Linked DNA regions of Homo sapiens. The protein of the gene in region 2 interacts with the protein of the main gene of each other region in a biochemical or structural test. Each region holds a gene or a part of one and is shown on either strand. Other genes may lie near its edges.

What was found.
Region 1: the proteins of MUTYH (region 2) and RPA1 form a complex in vitro, tested with the Homo sapiens proteins (one study listed by BioGRID).

The regions. Positions count from the first base shown.
Region 1 is NC_000017.11:1,832,807-1,836,618, reverse strand, and holds part of RPA1 (replication protein A 70 kDa DNA-binding subunit), read right to left. Parts: intron 1-3,812. UniProt on the Homo sapiens protein: As part of the heterotrimeric replication protein A complex (RPA/RP-A), binds and stabilizes single-stranded DNA intermediates that form during DNA replication or upon DNA stress.
Region 2 is NC_000001.11:45,329,659-45,333,470, reverse strand, and holds part of MUTYH (adenine DNA glycosylase), read left to right. Parts: coding exon 1-58; intron 59-146; coding exon 147-186; intron 187-300; coding exon 301-374; intron 375-511; coding exon 512-553; intron 554-636; coding exon 637-708; intron 709-783; coding exon 784-897; intron 898-982; coding exon 983-1,080; intron 1,081-1,160; coding exon 1,161-1,305; intron 1,306-1,384; coding exon 1,385-1,448; intron 1,449-1,621; coding exon 1,622-1,810; intron 1,811-1,914; coding exon 1,915-2,051; intron 2,052-2,136; coding exon 2,137-2,289; intron 2,290-2,913; coding exon 2,914-2,955; intron 2,956-3,402; coding exon of another isoform or gene 3,403-3,405; exon of another isoform or gene 3,406-3,582; intron 3,583-3,812. UniProt on the Homo sapiens protein: Involved in oxidative DNA damage repair. Initiates repair of A*oxoG to C*G by removing the inappropriately paired adenine base from the DNA backbone. Possesses both adenine and 2-OH-A DNA glycosylase activities.

The DNA.
Region 1 (3,812 bases), on a different chromosome or scaffold from region 2:
TTATATGAAGTCTTAGGAAAGGCAAAACTAACCTACAAAGGTAGAAACCAGAACACTGGTTGCCTAGGGTGAGGATGGAGGTGGGGAAGGAGCAAGAGGAGTTGTGCGTTGATGGAAGTATTCTATATCTCCACAGGGGCAATGTGGTTACAGGGGTGCGCACATTTGTCAAAGTTCATCAAGCTGTACATTTAAAATACGTGCAATTTGGCCGGGCATGGTGGCTTATGCCTGTAATCCCAGCACTTTGGAAGGCCAAGGCAGGAGGAGCATCTGAGGTCAGGAGTTCGAGACCAGCCTGGCCAACATAGTGAAACCCCATCACTATTAAAAATACAAAAATTAGCCAGGTGGTGGCGTGCACCTGTAACCCCAATTACTAAGGAGACTGAGGCATGAGAACTGCTTGAACCTGGGAGGCAGAGGTTGCAGTGAGCTGAGATCACGCCACTGCACTCCAGGGTGACAGGAGGAAACTCTGCCTCAAATAAATAAATAAATAAATAAAAAAGGTGCAATTTACTATACGTAAGCAAAATGTCAATGACAGTGATTTTTCTAAAAAGCAGTTATTCTGGGGAACAGTACTGGACAAGGTAAGGCAGGAGGTCAGTAATTACATTAAACACCTCTTTCTTTCTTCTTTCTAAATGAAATAGAGACAGGATCTTGCTATGTTGCCCAGCCTGGTATCAAACTCTTTCTTGGCCTCAAGGGATCCTCCTGCATTAGCCTCCCCAAGTGCTGAGAGTACACATGTGAGCCACCATGCCCGGCCATGAACACCTTTCTGTTCCGTTTGATTTTAAAACCACGTGCATGTATGAGGGGGATTCAAAAAGTACACGAAAAATGTGCATTATGAAAAAACTATGCATGCATTTCAAAAATTTTTTTTGCACTAAAATAAACTCATACTAACTTGTTATAACATGTCTGAACAAGACCTAGTTTGAGGTACTAAGAAGGATAAGACATCAGTTTGAAAAGAGCCCCTATCAGAGCAACATGAATTCTGCTAAAATGGAAACAACAACAAACAACAAATTCAAGGGGAAGGTTGGGTGGAAGAAGGATGAGATCACTTATGAAAGAAAAGTATATGGGGACGATGCTCCAAAGAAATCAGCTGTTTACAAATGTAACTCATTTTAAGGGACAAGGCCAGGCACAGTGGCTCATGCCTATAATCCCAAAGACTTGGGAGGCAAGGCAGGAGAACTGTTTGGAGACCAAGAGTTAGAGACCAGCTTAGGCAAGATGGCGAAACCCCATCTCTACACAAAATTAAAAAAAAAAAAAATTAGCTGGGCATGGTGGCATGCACCTGTACTCCCAGCTACTGGAGAGGTTGAGGTGGAAGGATCACTTGAGCCCAGGAGTTGGAGGTTGCAGTGAGCTATGATCATGCCACTGCACTCCAGCCTGAGAGACAAAGAACAAGACTCTGTCATTTAAAAAAAATTACGGCCAGGTGCAATGGCTCAAGTCTGTAATCCCAGGACTTGGGGAAGCCGAGGCGGCAGATCACTTGAGGCCAGGGGTTCAAGACCAGCCTGGACAACATGACGAAACCTCATCTCTACTAAAAATACAAAAATTAGCTGGGCGTGGTGGCGCACGTCTGTAATCGAGAGACAGAGGCAAAAGAATCACTTGAACCTGGGAGGTGAAGGTTGCAGTGAGCTGAGATTGTGCTTCTGCACCCCAGCCTGGGCAACAGAGTGAGACCCTTTAAAAAAAAAATCCCTAGTAAGTATATAAAGCAACAAATGTAATACTCAAGGGCACATGTGTTCAAATCTTCACCCCATGGACACATTATTCAACCTCTCTGTACTTCCTTCCTCTGTAAAATGGGAGTATAATAGCTATCTTCTAGGGTTACTTAAGTACTGACTACTAAAGCATCTGTCACATTAGAAATAGTCAAAAACATTAGTTCCCTTCCCCTTTCGTTATATAATTAAGATACAAATGCTATGTATTCTGTTGACCACAAGAGTTCTATGCATCATCTCTTATTTTATCATGTGACTCTTGCCCAAACGCCTTCACATGTGTGTGGTATTTGCGTACCCTTTGTGGCCTGTGTCTTTTGAACGAAAATGATACCTGCTTTAGCTGATAATGAAAGTCAGCAAAGGTTCTCCAACTCATTCCATCACCACAAACACATGTGAAACTTTCATTCTTCATTTATGAACAAAATACTTCACCTACGCTGGAAATAGGTTTATAAAATTTTGAATATAAAAACATGGCCAGGTGCAGTGGCTCACATCTATAATCACAGCACTTTGGGAAGCTGAGGCGAGAGGATCGCTTAAGCCCAGGAGTTTGAGACTAGCATGGGCAACAGAGTGAGACCCCATCTCTAAAAAATAAAAAAACTTATCAAATTATTTAAATATCTCCATGATCATTCTTTATTTTTTTTTGAGACAGTCTCACTCTGTCGCCCAGTCTGGAATGCACTGGTGCAATCTCGGCTCACTGCAACCTCTGCCTCACGGGTTCAAGCAATTATCCTGCCTCAGGCTCTCAAGCAGCAGGGATTACAGGCACACGCCAACACACCCAGCTAATTTTGTATTTTTAGTAGACCAGGGTTTCCCCATGTTGGCCAGGCTGATCTCGAACTCCTGACCTCAAGTGATCCACCTGCCTTGGCCTCCTAAAGTGCTTAGATTACAGGCATGAGCCACTGCGCCTGGCCCATGATCAGTCTTTTTAAAAGTGAAGAACCATTCTTTTCTTTTTTTCTTTTGAGATGGAGTTTTGCTCTTGTTGCTGGAGTGCAATGGTGCGATCTTGGCTTACCGGAACCTCTATCTCCCGGGTTCAAGAGATTCTCCTGCCTCAGCCTCCCAAGTAGCTGGGATTCCAGGCATGCGCCCCCACACCTGGCTAATTTTGTATTTCTAATAGAGACAGAGTTTCTCCATGTTGGCCAAGCTGGTCTCAAACTCCCAATCTCAGGTGATCTGCCTGCCTTGGCTTCCCAAAATGCTGGGATTACAGGCGTGAGCCACTGCGCCTGGCCTAGAAACATTCTTAATTTGTCTTAAAGACACAAGGTAGCAGCTATAAAGTAAATGAAAGCTACAATTTAAAATCACTTCCCCGGTTTCAGCATTCACACATTCCTAATTTATTTAAATATTCACTTGAGTCCAACAATAGTTCTTCCTGTTCCTGTTTTTCCCCCAAGCTGCCTTTCTTCCCCATTCACCTGTCCCTTTCTTCCCACTGCCTCATTCATTCATGCAACTAGCAAGCATTTATTCAGCACCTAAAACTTGCCAGCACTTCTCCAGGTATTGGGGATACAATGCAGAGTAAAATAACCCAGACATGATTGCAGGCCTCATGGAATTTACACAAAGTATTAGGCCAGGCACAGTGGCTCAAGCCTGTGATCCCAGCATACTGGGAGGCCAAGGTGGGTGGATCTCGAGGCCAGGAGTTCAAGACCAGCCTGGCCTACATGGCGAAACCCTGTCTCTACTAAAAATACAAAAATTAGCAGGGTGTGGTGGTGGGCACCTGTAATCCCAGCTTCTAGGGAGGCTAAGACAGGAGAATCGCTTGAACCCGGGAGGCAGAGGTTGCAGTGAGCCGAGAATGTGCCACTGCACTCCAGCATGGGCAACAGAGCAAGACTCTGTCTCAAAACAAACAAACAAACAAACACAATAATTTTAAAATTTTAAAAAGAAACTGATAAATCAACAAACATAAAACTGCAATTATTAATAGGTAACATAAACACTGAGCATTTACTATGTATCAGTGTGCTAAGCACTTTA
Region 2 (3,812 bases):
AGGGAGCCTGCTAAGCTGGTACGACCAAGAGAAACGGGACCTACCATGGAGAAGACGGGTAGGCAGGCGAGGAGCAGGGACAGTGGGTGGGAGGCAGGCACCCAGCCCCCTCCACCCTAACTCCTCATCTGGGGTTGCATTGACAGGCAGAAGATGAGATGGACCTGGACAGGCGGGCATATGCTGGTCAGTACATCTCCTGAGAGCAGGGCCACTTTGCCTCGAGGCCCTTGGGTCTGGGGGCTGTGGGCCAGGTAGGGGCAGGTCAGCAGTGTCCTCATGCCAACCCCTTTCCCCCAGTGTGGGTCTCAGAGGTCATGCTGCAGCAGACCCAGGTTGCCACTGTGATCAACTACTATACCGGATGGATGCAGGTGACTCCAGGGGAGGAAGGGAAGGGTCATGGGTCAGACCCCAGATGAGAGCCTCTACTTTGGGGTGGGTGTAGAGAAGGCTTCCTCTACCACCTTCACCCTTGACCTTGTCTCTTTCTGCCTGCCTGTGGCTATAGAAGTGGCCTACACTGCAGGACCTGGCCAGTGCTTCCCTGGAGGTGAGAGCCACCCTAGGGTAGGGGAAATAGGAACAATAGAGGGACTGACGGGTGATCTCTTTGACCTCTGATCCTACCCACAGGAGGTGAATCAACTCTGGGCTGGCCTGGGCTACTATTCTCGTGGCCGGCGGCTGCAGGAGGGAGCTCGGAAGGTAAGGGGATGGCAGGAGGGTAGGAACCCAGGAGTCTTGGGTGTCTTATAATCTTGAGTCTTGCACTCCAATCAGGTGGTAGAGGAGCTAGGGGGCCACATGCCACGTACAGCAGAGACCCTGCAGCAGCTCCTGCCTGGCGTGGGGCGCTACACAGCTGGGGCCATTGCCTCTATCGCCTTTGGCCAGGTGATCTCACAGCCCACCCCCACTTTGTGCGTGCCCAGCCTCCTTCCTCCCAGCCCAGGCTAACTCTTTGGCCCCTCTGTGCCAGGCAACCGGTGTGGTGGATGGCAACGTAGCACGGGTGCTGTGCCGTGTCCGAGCCATTGGTGCTGATCCCAGCAGCACCCTTGTTTCCCAGCAGCTCTGGTAGGATGTTGGGGTAACAAGGGTGCTTCAGGGGTGTCTGCAAAGGAGCTCTGCTTCACAGCAGTGTTCCCTTCTTTTAGGGGTCTAGCCCAGCAGCTGGTGGACCCAGCCCGGCCAGGAGATTTCAACCAAGCAGCCATGGAGCTAGGGGCCACAGTGTGTACCCCACAGCGCCCACTGTGCAGCCAGTGCCCTGTGGAGAGCCTGTGCCGGGCACGCCAGAGAGTAAGCCTACTGGGGAAGGGGCAGTGAGAAGTCCTAAGGAGTGACTCTGCCCTATGACACTCAACCCTGTGCCTCTCAGGTGGAGCAGGAACAGCTCTTAGCCTCAGGGAGCCTGTCGGGCAGTCCTGACGTGGAGGAGTGTGGTGAGCACCAAACCTAGCCCCCACCCCAACCCTTCCTGGCCCAGTCAGAAGCCCCATTCCAGTTCTTCCTCTAACCTGAGTAAGATTCTGCAGAACCCGGCCAAAGCCCACTCTCTAGGTTGGCCCCTAAAGCCCTCTTGGCTTGAGTAGGGTTCGGGGATCTCCGTTCCCAGCTCCCAACACTGGACAGTGCCACCTGTGCCTGCCTCCCTCGGAGCCCTGGGACCAGACCCTGGGAGTGGTCAACTTCCCCAGAAAGGCCAGCCGCAAGCCCCCCAGGGAGGAGAGCTCTGCCACCTGTGTTCTGGAACAGCCTGGGGCCCTTGGGGCCCAAATTCTGCTGGTGCAGAGGCCCAACTCAGGTACCTGGATACTGGGCGTGGAGGGCAGTGGCATGAGTAACAAGAGAGAATGGAGGGAATCGGCAGCTGAGGCCTGACCCCTGCCTGGCTGCCCTCCCTCTCAGGTCTGCTGGCAGGACTGTGGGAGTTCCCGTCCGTGACCTGGGAGCCCTCAGAGCAGCTTCAGCGCAAGGCCCTGCTGCAGGAACTACAGCGTTGGGCTGGGCCCCTCCCAGCCACGCACCTCCGGCACCTTGGGGAGGTAAGTGAGCAGCGGAATAGCCAAGGATGTTGGCTTTTGAGGCTATATCCACAGGCCTATTTGAACCCCTTGACCCTTCCTCCAGGTTGTCCACACCTTCTCTCACATCAAGCTGACATATCAAGTATATGGGCTGGCCTTGGAAGGGCAGACCCCAGTGACCACCGTACCACCAGGTGCTCGCTGGCTGACGCAGGAGGAATTTCACACCGCAGCTGTTTCCACCGCCATGAAAAAGGCACTACCTTTGTTGTCTTTGTTGTACTTCCTTGTGTTTCCTACATGTTCTACATGAATATATTACTGTGTAAACAGGAAAAAAAGCATTTTTTTTTGAGACGGAGAATCGCTCTGTTGCCCAGGCTGGAGTGCAATGGCGCTATCTCGGTTGACTGCAACCTCCATCTCCCGGGTTCAAGTGATTCTCCTGCCTCAGCTTCCTGAGTAGCTCGGATTACAGGCGCCCGCCACCATGCCTGGCTAATTTTTGTATTTTTAGTAGAGATGAGGTTTCACCATGCTGGCCAGGCTGGTCTCCAACTCTTGACCTCAAGTGATCCGCCCGCCTCAGCCTCCCAGAATGCTGGGATTACAGGTGTGAGCTACCACACCCAGCCATGATTTTTTGTATTTTTAGAGATGGGGTTTCACCATGTTGGCCAGGCTGGTCTCAAACTCCTGGCCTCAAGTGATCCACCCGACTTGGCCTCCCAAAATGCTGGGATTATAGGCGTGAGCCACCATGCCTGGCCAAAAAAGCATATTTTAAACAAAAGTACTGGGACATGAAGTTAAGGGCAGAACACCGGTTTATCTCTTTTGCAAAAAGTGCCAGCCCTCACCTCCCTGTCTTCTTGTCTAGGTTTTCCGTGTGTATCAGGGCCAACAGCCAGGGACCTGTATGGTAAGTCTCCTAGGCCTCTCCCAACCGTGTCTCCCCAGGCCTGAGTCCATAGGTTTTTAGTCAGTTAACTAACGAATGTCTGGGTGAACATTCTCCACTCCAGGCTTCACTGGAGGGAGGAATAGTTCTTGACCTGGAGACCTTCCATTGTGGGGTGCAGGGTAGAGGGAAAGGAAAAAAATGATGAGGACTCTCCAGTGTCACAGGTGTGTGAAATGCCTGTACTGAGTTTTGTGGGATATGAATTGTGGAGCCATCAGTTCTTTTTTTTTTTTTTTTTTTTTTTTGAGACAGTCTCACTGTCACCCAAGCTAGAGTGCAGTGGCCCGATCTCGGCTCACTGCAATCTCCCACAACTGGATTAAAGCGATTCTCCTGCCTCAGTCTCCCAAGTAGCTGGGATTACAGGTGCCTGCTACCACACCCAACTAATTTTTGTATTTTTAGTAGAGACAGGGTTTCACCATGTTGACTAGGCTGGTCTCGAACTCCTGACCTCAAGTGATCTGCCCATCTTGGCCTCCCAAAGTGCTGGGATTACAGGCGTGAGCCACCACACCCATCCATGGGAGCTATCAGTTCTAATTGGGAGACGGATCAGGAAAGGCTGTTTGGAGGAAGCAGCTGGTAATCTTCGTCCTAGAAATGAATCCTTTTCTTCAGGTTTGGGAGGGGAATCAACCGTAGCGATGTTCTTTCCAGTCCCAAGAGTAGTGTGAGCAAAGGTGGAGCCCAGTGCAGGCTGCAGTGCTCAAGGAGCTGTGAGCAGTTGGTTTAGCTGGAAAGGTCAGCAGGGCCTGCTGGGTCAGTCAGGGTGTGAGCCCTAGGCTGCTGACTCATTTTAGGTGGAGGAGAGA